3 linked regions of the Homo sapiens genome follow. The protein of the gene in region 1 purifies or fractionates together with the protein of each later gene. This does not show direct contact. Each region holds a gene or a part of one and is shown on either strand. Other genes may lie near its edges.

What was found.
Region 2: the proteins of SMARCA5 (region 1) and RBBP7 purify together in Homo sapiens (affinity purification with mass spectrometry; 4 studies listed by BioGRID and IntAct, with this or other methods). This does not show direct contact.
Region 3: the proteins of SMARCA5 (region 1) and RBBP4 fractionate together in Homo sapiens (co-fractionation; 6 studies listed by BioGRID and IntAct, with this or other methods). This does not show direct contact.

What each region holds. Positions count from the first base shown.
Region 1 is NC_000004.12:143,548,173-143,551,911, reverse strand, and holds part of SMARCA5 (SWI/SNF-related matrix-associated actin-dependent regulator of chromatin subfamily A member 5), read right to left. Parts: intron 1,916-3,739; coding exon 1,808-1,915; intron 1-1,807. UniProt on the Homo sapiens protein: ATPase that possesses intrinsic ATP-dependent nucleosome-remodeling activity.
Region 2 is NC_000023.11:16,843,841-16,846,362, forward strand, and holds the end of RBBP7 (histone-binding protein RBBP7), read right to left. Parts: intron 2,099-2,522; coding exon 1,988-2,098; intron 1,264-1,987; coding exon 1,195-1,263; 3' UTR 501-1,194; downstream 1-500. UniProt on the Homo sapiens protein: Core histone-binding subunit that may target chromatin remodeling factors, histone acetyltransferases and histone deacetylases to their histone substrates in a manner that is regulated by nucleosomal DNA.
Region 3 is NC_000001.11:32,671,543-32,675,281, reverse strand, and holds part of RBBP4 (histone-binding protein RBBP4), read right to left. Parts: intron 2,833-3,739; coding exon 2,756-2,832; intron 2,641-2,755; coding exon 2,583-2,640; intron 2,492-2,582; coding exon 2,381-2,491; intron 1-2,380. UniProt on the Homo sapiens protein: Core histone-binding subunit that may target chromatin assembly factors, chromatin remodeling factors and histone deacetylases to their histone substrates in a manner that is regulated by nucleosomal DNA.

The sequences.
Region 1 (3,739 bases):
GGACCCACAGAACACCCAGAAATAGCCAAAGCCACCCTAAGCAAAAAGAATAAAACTGGAAGAATCACATTACCTGACTTAACTTATAGTACCGAGCTATAGTAACCAAAACAGCATGGTGCTGGTATAGAAACAGATACATAGATCAGTGCAACAGTGGAAAAGAACAGAGAACCCAGAGATAAGTCCGTAAAGTCCATACATCTACATGGAACTCATTTTTGACAAAGCTACCAAGAACATACACTGGAGAAAGGACAGTCTCTTCAATAAATGGTAATGGGAAAATTGGATATCCATACACAGAAGAATGAAACTTGACCTGTATCCCTAACTATATAAAAAAATCAAATCAAAATGTATTAAAGACTTTAAGTCCTCAAACTGTGAAACTACAAGAAAACATTGGGAAAACTCTCCAGAACACTGGACTGGGCAAAGATTTCTTGAATAATACCCCACAGGCAACCAAAGCAAAAATGGACAAATGGGATCACATTAAGTTAAAAAGCTTCTGCACAGCAGAGGAAACAGCAAAGTGAAGAGACATCCCACAGAATGGAAGAAAATATTTGCAAACTACCCATTTGTCAAAGGATTAATAAATAACCAGAATATGTAAGAGCTCAAACAACTCTACTGAAAAAAATCCTAACAGTCCGATTTAAAAATAGGCAAAAGATCTGAACAGATGATTCTCAAAGGAAGACATACAAATGGCAAACAAGCATATTAAAAGCTGTTCAGTATCACTGATCATCAGAGAAATGCAATCAAAACTACAATGAGATAACATCTCATCCCAGATAAAATGGCTTTTATCCAAAAGTCAGGCAATAACAAATCCTGACAAGAATGTGGAGAAAAGGAAACCCTCATACACTTTTGGTGGGAACGCAAATTAGTACAATCACTGTGGAAGCAGTTTGAAGGTTCCTCAAAAAACTACAGATAAGAGTTACCCTACTCCTAGGTTTACACCCAAAAGAAAGTCAGTATATCAAAGAGATATGTGCACTCCCATGTTTACTGCAGCACTATTCACAGTAGCCATGATTTGGAAGCAACCTAAGTGTCCATCAACAGATAAATGGATAAAGAAAACATGGTATGTATACACAATAGAATACTATTCAACCATAAGCAATGAGACCCTGTAATTTGCAGCAACATGGATGGAACTGGAGTTTATTAAGTGAAATAAGCCAGACACAGAAAGACAAACTTGGCATGTTCTCACTTATTTGTGGGAGCTAAAAACTACAATTAAACTCATGGAGACAGAGAGAAGGATGGATACCAGAGGCTGAGAAAGGCAGTGGGGGTGGGGGAAAGTGGGGCTGGCTAATGGATACAAATAAATACAAAGAGAGACTAAGACCCAGTATTTGATAGCCCAACACAGTGACTACCGCAATAAATAATTTAATTATACATTTTAAAATAACTAAGAGTTAAACTGTTTGTAACAGGGATAAATGCTGGAGGTGATAAATACCCCATTTACCCTGATGTCCTTATTACTTATTGCATGCCTGTATCAAAGTATCTCATGTAACCTATAAATACATACTTACTCATAACAACTAAAAATTAAAAATTATACCACTACCTAAATTTGAAAGTGGAAGAATCTCAAATTATGAGCTTGGGTTCTCCCTTAAGGAAAAAAAAAAAAAAAAAAAAGTAAAGGCAATGGAGGGGTGCACAACAGGGACTAACACATCAATGACAGCCAAGCAGTGTTAAATACTTAGAAAGGGGAAATTTACATAATCCACATATTTACATATTCATGAATACTTACTGAAGGCTTTGGTCCTCGTTTCTTTTTCTCTGCCTTCTCCTTTTCTTCTAGTTCCATGTTTTCTCTTTCAATCAAAGTAATTAAGGTATTACATCTCCTCTGGAGCTCCTAAATTATAAACAAACATGGTACACGCACTTTCCATCCACAAGTTTCATGATTTCAATTTTAAAACAAGGTATGTTTTAATAGGATAATATATAAAACCACTAATACACCCCTGATTTAAAAAAAAAACAACTGATTTTCATATACAATTCATGCTATGAAGATTAAAGGCAAGATATTTGTAAATAATGTTTTTACTCCAATCTTTAAAGCCAAACTACTGTGTATTCTTCAAAAATTCTTCCTTCACTTAGGAATTAAAGCAATAAAAATGAACATATGCAATACTGCTACTTAGTGTGTATGTCTGAGAACTACTGTGCTACTTATATCCAAAACTTAAAAAGATTAATAGTGCACATATGTGAGGGTCAAAAACAACAAGAACTTTAACAGGTGTGTATAATCTTTCCCTTCAAAGTATCACTAGAATTATGGTAGTCAATCAATCACATGGCACCTTTCCCAATTTTGGAAAACCAGCCATGGAAGTCTACGATGAGTTCTACCTCATCTCTCTCTGGCAAACTGGACATACAGCCTCCAGAAAAGATTTAAAGTATAACATAGAAGTAGCAGTTAACCCTGAAAGAAACAGAAGTCCATCTGCACGGACGGCTGCTGGGTAGCAGCCCCCTTTCTTATAGAGCAAAATTATTTTTTTCTTATAGTAAGTGATACTACTACACACACAACTACAGTAAAATAATTTTAAAATACTACTGTATAGAATACACCACACAAGACTTAGAAATAGTATATAGAGATAGAAGAATACATTATCATTTTTTGTGCATCTTAACATGGAACATGTTAAGAAGTAACACAGTTTTAAATTACGGTACTGTACTAGTTAAATTAACATGGCACTGTCTTGTTACAATCACTATAAAATTATTCTTTATTAACTCTATAAATTGTTCCCACTTAAGAAGAAATAAGCTTTCAGCAACTGGATCTTTTCTCTAATTATATATTTATACAGTGTTTTATCTTCAAAGTATCTTCATGTATTTAAGTTTAGTACATTTCCCAAACTTGGGTATCACAAACAGTGATGTCTAGTGAAAAAAAATTTTCAGTGGTCAAACATGAAAATACTGCTTACTATCCACTGTCTTACAAAGTGACATTTTACTTTAAATATACAGAGAAATCTTACTATAAACAAACACAAAGATGTTTAAACTTTGCTTATCCCAGAATATCCCAAACTTAAGACTAAAGAACTTATTAGCATTATCCTCATCTGGCAGAAAACAAGTTGAAGCTCAAAGTTCAATGGTGGTGAAATAAGGAAGAAAAGGAGCAATCCATCAAAGTTAAACTTTTCTGAATTCAAATTTTAGGTTATTAGAAATGGGGCTATTTGGTCAGAAACTGTTAGTCAGATATTGGGAATAAAAACAAAACCTAGCACTAAATCAGTGCAAAAGTAGTGTTTCACTATAATAAGCCATCTTAAAATAATCCAGACTCTGGATGATTTATATTAAATAAATCAGAATGCTGATTCTGATGTGCAGATGCTTGAATGCAAGGACCATTTTTCTTTATAGAAATATGTTCATTTGAAAAACCAAAAAGTCGTAACACTCAGAAGTTGAAACTGATACTTCCTCCCACTTAGAACTTGAAAAGCTAGTCTTATCATATAGTGATATTTAAAGACGTAAGATACTAAAGGATAGGACCAATAAACTTGTAAGCTATCCCTGGTATTAGGTTTTATGATACTAACAATATTGTAACAAAAGTCTACTTCATAGATTTTTTTAAAGTCACCTTAAAGAATACCAAAGATGACACTTACTCTGAACTCTG
Region 2 (2,522 bases), on another chromosome or scaffold:
TGGGATGCATTTGTTGTCCTTTCAGAACCCTTCCTCCCATTACCCTGTGAATAAAAACAAATGGGACCCCCTGAGAAGGACATCTTCCTACAGTGATCACCTCACCAGCCCAGTGTTGTGGCTTTGTAGCGCACCCCGTATCTACCATATTCTAGAACACTGTAATGCTACTAGGCTGGCCCAGAAAAGGTTTAAATGTTGAATTCACTTAAATTGCAATTGTTGCACCATCATGGAATCGTGATGTGTATTATTTATATTGGCGGTGGACTCCAAGGTGTAGAGAAAACTTGGGTCTTGGGTAATATGGACCATTTCATCCTCAGACTTGTTAGGAGTACATTTCTTGGTCTTGAGACCAGTATTTTTCAGTTATGTATGCAACTGCCTTTATTACACCTGGTTATCACAATTCAATTCTCAGGTGTTGCAGAAAAATCTACCTCTTTCAGACTGTAGATGGAAATAACTGTGAAAAAAATGATGCAGATATCTTCTAGTTTGTGCTAAACACACTGCTTTATTTTTACAGCCCACGTCTTTCATGAGGATACGAATTGTTAAGAGGCAGTCTCGTTTTGCTTTTCAAAGACATTTTGTAGAGATTTTTCACTAATGTGAATCTGATTTTATCTACTTGATTCTGTATAGATTAAGTAAATATGTATGATAAACTTAACAGCTTCTGTGTATTCTTTCATTATCCATGTGACCTTAACTGTAGGAGTCCAAAGGTACCATTTTACCCATTTCTACTCAAAAAGTAGACTCCCCCGCCCCCCCCCACTAAGCTTTTAAAAAAACACAAGTTTTATTTTAAAACTTTATTTCTGCAAAGCCAATCAAGAAGTGTTGGAAGGAAAAAGTGTAAAAGTTATTCTTGCATATTTGGGAACAGCAAGCACTTAGTTTGAGAAAATGAGGACTTAAAACAGTTGAATCAAAGGCAATACCCTGCTACTTGTATTTAAAATCAATGGTGATGTTCTTTCTTAAGCAACATTCTTCTCTTCCCTAATAGCTACAATATGATACAGTACGCAACAGCTCACTTGAAAGTGCTAGAATCAGAGGATAAAGAAGCCATAAGCCACCCCACTTACATTTCCTACTATACAATGCCTTTTTGGCGCTTGATAAATCAAGCATTCATGTAGCATTACATTCAACAGAAACATTTCTCGTACTTTGGGTTTAAGATCCTTGTCCCTCCAGTTCGGATGTCGTGACATCTGACTCTTCATCATTGTAAATATTTTCAGCCTGGAGATAACCAAATAAATTCACAGGTAAAAACTCCCTATGGTTTTCACATGGTCATGTAAAAACAATTTAATCTATTTAGAACTTAATAGTTTCATTTTTACATTTCTCTCTTAAAAACTTCAATAAGGAAATGGTAGGCTAGCCAGTATTTTGAAAAATTCTTTGCCAGTGTGTAATTCCGTATGTATACTTAGCCACCCATCGATGCACTACTTATTTCAATCACTGTTCATAAGAGATGTTTTCCAAAGGCACTTCAAGCATCGTTTAGAGGAAGTGGTAGCCCAGATGTTATGGAAGTCTCGGTTAACAACAACTTAGAAATGTCAGCTACTTAGTGCTCATCCTCAGAGAACTTGCTGTCATTTGAATGCCTTGACCTCTCCTTCCTGTATCCCTCATGCCTACCACACAGAACAGACACTGGAGACAGAGTAGCGACGCCAAGACTCCAGTGTATGAAGAGCACAACAACAATGAAAATCAGTGCAGATGCAGAGATTTCTCCTGACCTGACAGGTGCTACAAATAGCAAACAGTGGACGAAGCACCATATGGGACTAAAGATTGTATTGTTGAAATGGAAAAAGTTCTTTTAAACGGTTTCTGTAAATGTTTGGCATAATATGCACCTACATATTCGAAATAACTTTATTACATTATGTAAGTAGTAAATCTCTCCTTTACAAGACAGTCATTCAAGAAAAACATTTTAACTCACCATTTGCCATATCTGCATGATGTTATCCTCAGACACTGAGCAAATGACCCAAGGCTCATTGGGGTTCCAGCTAAAATCTGAAATCTTAGCAGTGTGTCCTCCATGAATAAACTGTTACAAGAACAAAAAAAGCTTTGATTTCATATACTCTCCTGTTAATCCTAACAAAGGTTTTACTAAGTTTTTAGAGCTATCAGTATTTCAACTGGGGGTGGGTGCTGTCTGGTTTTAGAAGGTGGTACAGGCTCAGTAATCTATTTATACTTATTTTGCAAATTTCCAAACCTCCAGAATAGGTGACAGAATATAGTACAATGGATACCTGTATACCCTTTACCTAGATTCACCAAGTGATACTAGCATAACTGATGCTTTATCCATGAGCCTATACAATGAAATGGCTGAAGACTTCAGCCTGCATCCCTTAAGAATGAGGACATTTTCCTAGTCAAAATGCCATTTCCATACTGATTATGATGAACATTAATCCAGCATCATTTGCTCATATACAGTTAGGTGCAAACATCTAAGGTAA
Region 3 (3,739 bases), on another chromosome or scaffold:
GGCAGATCACCTGAGGTCAGGAGTTCGAGGCCAGCCTGACCAACATGGAGAAACCCAGTCTCTACTAAAAAAAATTACAAAAATTTAGCCAGGCGTGGTGGCGCATGCCTGTAATCTCAGCTACTCGGGAGGCTGAGGCAGGAGAATCGCTTGAACCCAGGAGGCGGAGGTTGCAGAGAGCCAAGATCGCACCATTGCACTCCAGGCTGGAAAATAAGAACAAAACTCCGTCTCAAAAATAAAAATGCCGGGCACGGTGGCTCACGTCTGTAATTCCAGTACTTTGGGAGGCCAAAGAGGGCGGATCATGAGGTCAGGAGATCGAGACCACCCTGACCAACATGGTGAAACCCCGTCTCTACTAAATAAAAAACAACAACAAAAAAACTAGCCGGGCATGGTGGTGCATGCCTGTAATCCTAGCTAATCAGCAGGCTGAGGCAGGAGAATTGCTTGAACCTGGGAGGCAGAGGTTGCAGTGAGCTGAGATTGCTCTACTGAACTCCAGCCTGGGTGAGGCAGTGAGACTCTGTCTCAGAAAAAAAAAAAATTAAAAAAAAAATAAAGAAATAAAAAGTAAGAAAGTACTGATGAAAACATCCTCCCTCTCCTCATGATGAGTCAAAAACTATTCCCTGGAACTTAATTCCTGGTACTAGATCTACTCTGAGAGACACCAAGTTTCTTCTGAATTCTTTTCCTTTACCAGACAACCACCAAGTTACGCACTTCTTTAAAAACAAAAAAAAGTGGGGGGCGGGTGGGCAGCCTCACACATGTACTCCCAGCACTCTGGGAGGTGGGCAAATCGCTTGAGCTCACAAGTTCAAGACCAGACTGGCCAACATGGCAAACCCCATCTCTACAAAAAATTTTAAAAATTAACCAGGGCTGGTGATGCACACCTGTGGTCCCAGTTACTAGGGAGGCTGAGGTAGGAGGATGTCTTGAGCCCGGGAATTGGAGGCTGCAGTGAGCTGTAATCGCACCACTGCACTGTAGCCTGAACAACAGAGCAAGAAACTGTCTTCCACCTCCAAATTGTCGCAAACTCCATACAACATAAAATTTATCAGCTTAGCCATTTTAAGTGTACAGTTCAGTGGCATTAAGTACACTCACACTGCATTAACCATAACCACCACCTATCTCCGGAATATATACATATATATATTTTAATTGAGACGGAGTCTCGCTCTGTCGCCCAGGCCAGAGTGCAGTGACGCAATCTTGGCTCAATGCAAGCTCCGCCTCCCGTGTTCACGCCATTTTCCTGCCTCAGCCTCCTGAGGAGCTGGGACTACAGGCGCCCGCCACCACGCCCGGCTAATTTTTTTTTGTATTTTTAGTACAGATGGGGTTTCACTGTGTTAGCCAGGATGGTCTCGATCTCCTGACCTCGTGATCCACCCGCCTCGGCCTCCCAGAGTACTGGGATTACAGGCGTGAGCCAACGTGCTCGGCCGAATATAACTATTTTAAAAATATTAATGTATGAGACACCACAGTTATTTTTATTAAATTGAAGTGCTTTGAAAATTTAAGAGGCCAGGCGCGGTGGCTCATGCCTGCAATCCCAGCACTCCGGGAGGTCGAGGTGGGCGGATCACAAGGTCAGGAGTTTGAGACCAGCCTGGCCAACATAGTGAAACCGTCTCTACTGAAAATACAAAAAAATTAGCCAGGCATGGTGGTACGCACCTATAGTCCCAGCTACTCAGAAGGCTGAGGCAGGAGAATCGATCGAACCTGGGAGGTGGAAGTTGCAGTGAGCCGAGATTGCACCATTGCACTCCAGCCTGGGTGAAAAAGTGAGAGACCATCTCAAAAAAAAAAAAAGAGAAAATTTAAGGAGGGTGTTCACATTCTTTGAGATAGAGATAGGGAACATTTTTGAAATCTAGACAGCTTTCATGGAGAAATAGTAGTATTTGATGCTGTGATATGATATACCTCCTTTGGGTATGTAAATTTGTACTTGTAAGATGATAAGATGGGAGAAACACCGCAGATAGATGGTATGAAATCTGGAAGTGAACTAGAACTAGAAGTAAACAGACATGGAAAATTCTTGAGTTTTCAAGTCTGGTTAGCTAGGAAAATGTTGGAGTCATACAAAAAGAAAGAAAGAAGGAGGAGAGGGAAAAGGAGAAGTGGGAGAGAGGGTCAGTTTTGTTTAGCAGAGTTTAAAATACCAGTGGTATGACCAAATACAGTCAAGAGCAGGCAGCTGAAAATGATAATGTATAGACAAGTCTTAAAATCACACCTGGGAGTAAAATGAACAGAGATGGTAGCTGTAATCATAAAATATACAAATGTAAATTGATTCTATGTCTCACTTATTTCACCTCCCCAAAATAAATTACTAAACCCTTACCATTTGCCACACTTGCATGATATTGTCTTCTGATACAGAACAAATCACCCAAGGTTCATTGGGATTCCAGGAGAAATCAGATATCTTGGCAGTATGACCACCATGAATAAACTGAAAGAGGGAAGAAAACAAAGAGGTGAAATGCAGATAGAGGACATTAAATTACAGACTATTTCAGTACTGTCCAATGCTTTTAACATACCAACAACTCTGGTGGCCCGTCTTCTGCATCTTCTGGGGATTGTTCCTCTCCAATTTTACTAGTACAAAAGCATAATTTTAAAAGTTAAAACAGATTTACCCTTAGTAACTACCTTTGCAAAGTGTAAATAAAGGAAATAATTATGTAGAGAGAGGAATGAATACAAGAATTACCTTAAATCCCAGACATTCAGTCTGCGATCAGTACCACTGGAAGCTAAAATAGTCTCATTGTGAGGTGACCACTGAACCTACACATAGGAATGAAGAAAAGAGCAAAGCCATGAATTAGAAAATAAAGGGAAAAAATTCACAAAATATTTAACAATTTAAAAATTTTGTAAATAAAAGGGAAGAGGAAGTCAAGGTATTATACACGTTACAGTTAAAATTAAGAGCTAAAGAATTTATTTTATGGGCAGGCGCGGTTGGCTCACACCTGTAATCCCAGCACTTTGGGAGGCGGGTGGATCACATGAGGTCAGGAGTTCAAGATCAGCCTAACCAACATGGTGAAACACTGTCTCTACTAAAAATACAAAAATTAGCTGGGTGTGGTGGCAGGCGCCTGTAATCCCAGCTACTCGGGAGGCTGAGGCAGGAGGATTGCTTGAACCCAGGAAGCAGAGGTTGGAGCTGAGATCGTGCCACTGCACTCCAGCCTGGGTGACAGACTCTCTCAAAAACAAACAAAAAGAAAAACAAAAAAAAAATGTTTACAAAAACAACCCATTACTAGACATTTCTAGACCCAGGATATAAGCTTTTGTTCCATTCCCACAGCACCCCTTTGGCACACTTTTTCTTGAGACGGAAGTCTTGCTCTGTCACCCAGGCTGGAGTACAATGGCAGGATCTCAGCTCACTGAAACCTCCACCTCCCAGGTTCAAGCGACTCTCCCACCTTAGCCTCCCAGGTAGCTGGGATTACAGGTGTCCGCCACCACGGCCAGCTAATTTTTGTATTTGTGTAGAGATGGGGTTAGGCTGGTATCAAAAAAAAAAAGAGATGAGGCCTCGCTATATTGCTTCTAGGCTGGACTTGAACTCTTGGGCTCAAGGGATCTCGCTGCCTCAACCTCCTGCGTAGCTGGAGGTGTGTGCCATGTGCCCAGCATCATTTTATCTTTGGAAACATCACATCTTGTCTGTTCTTGT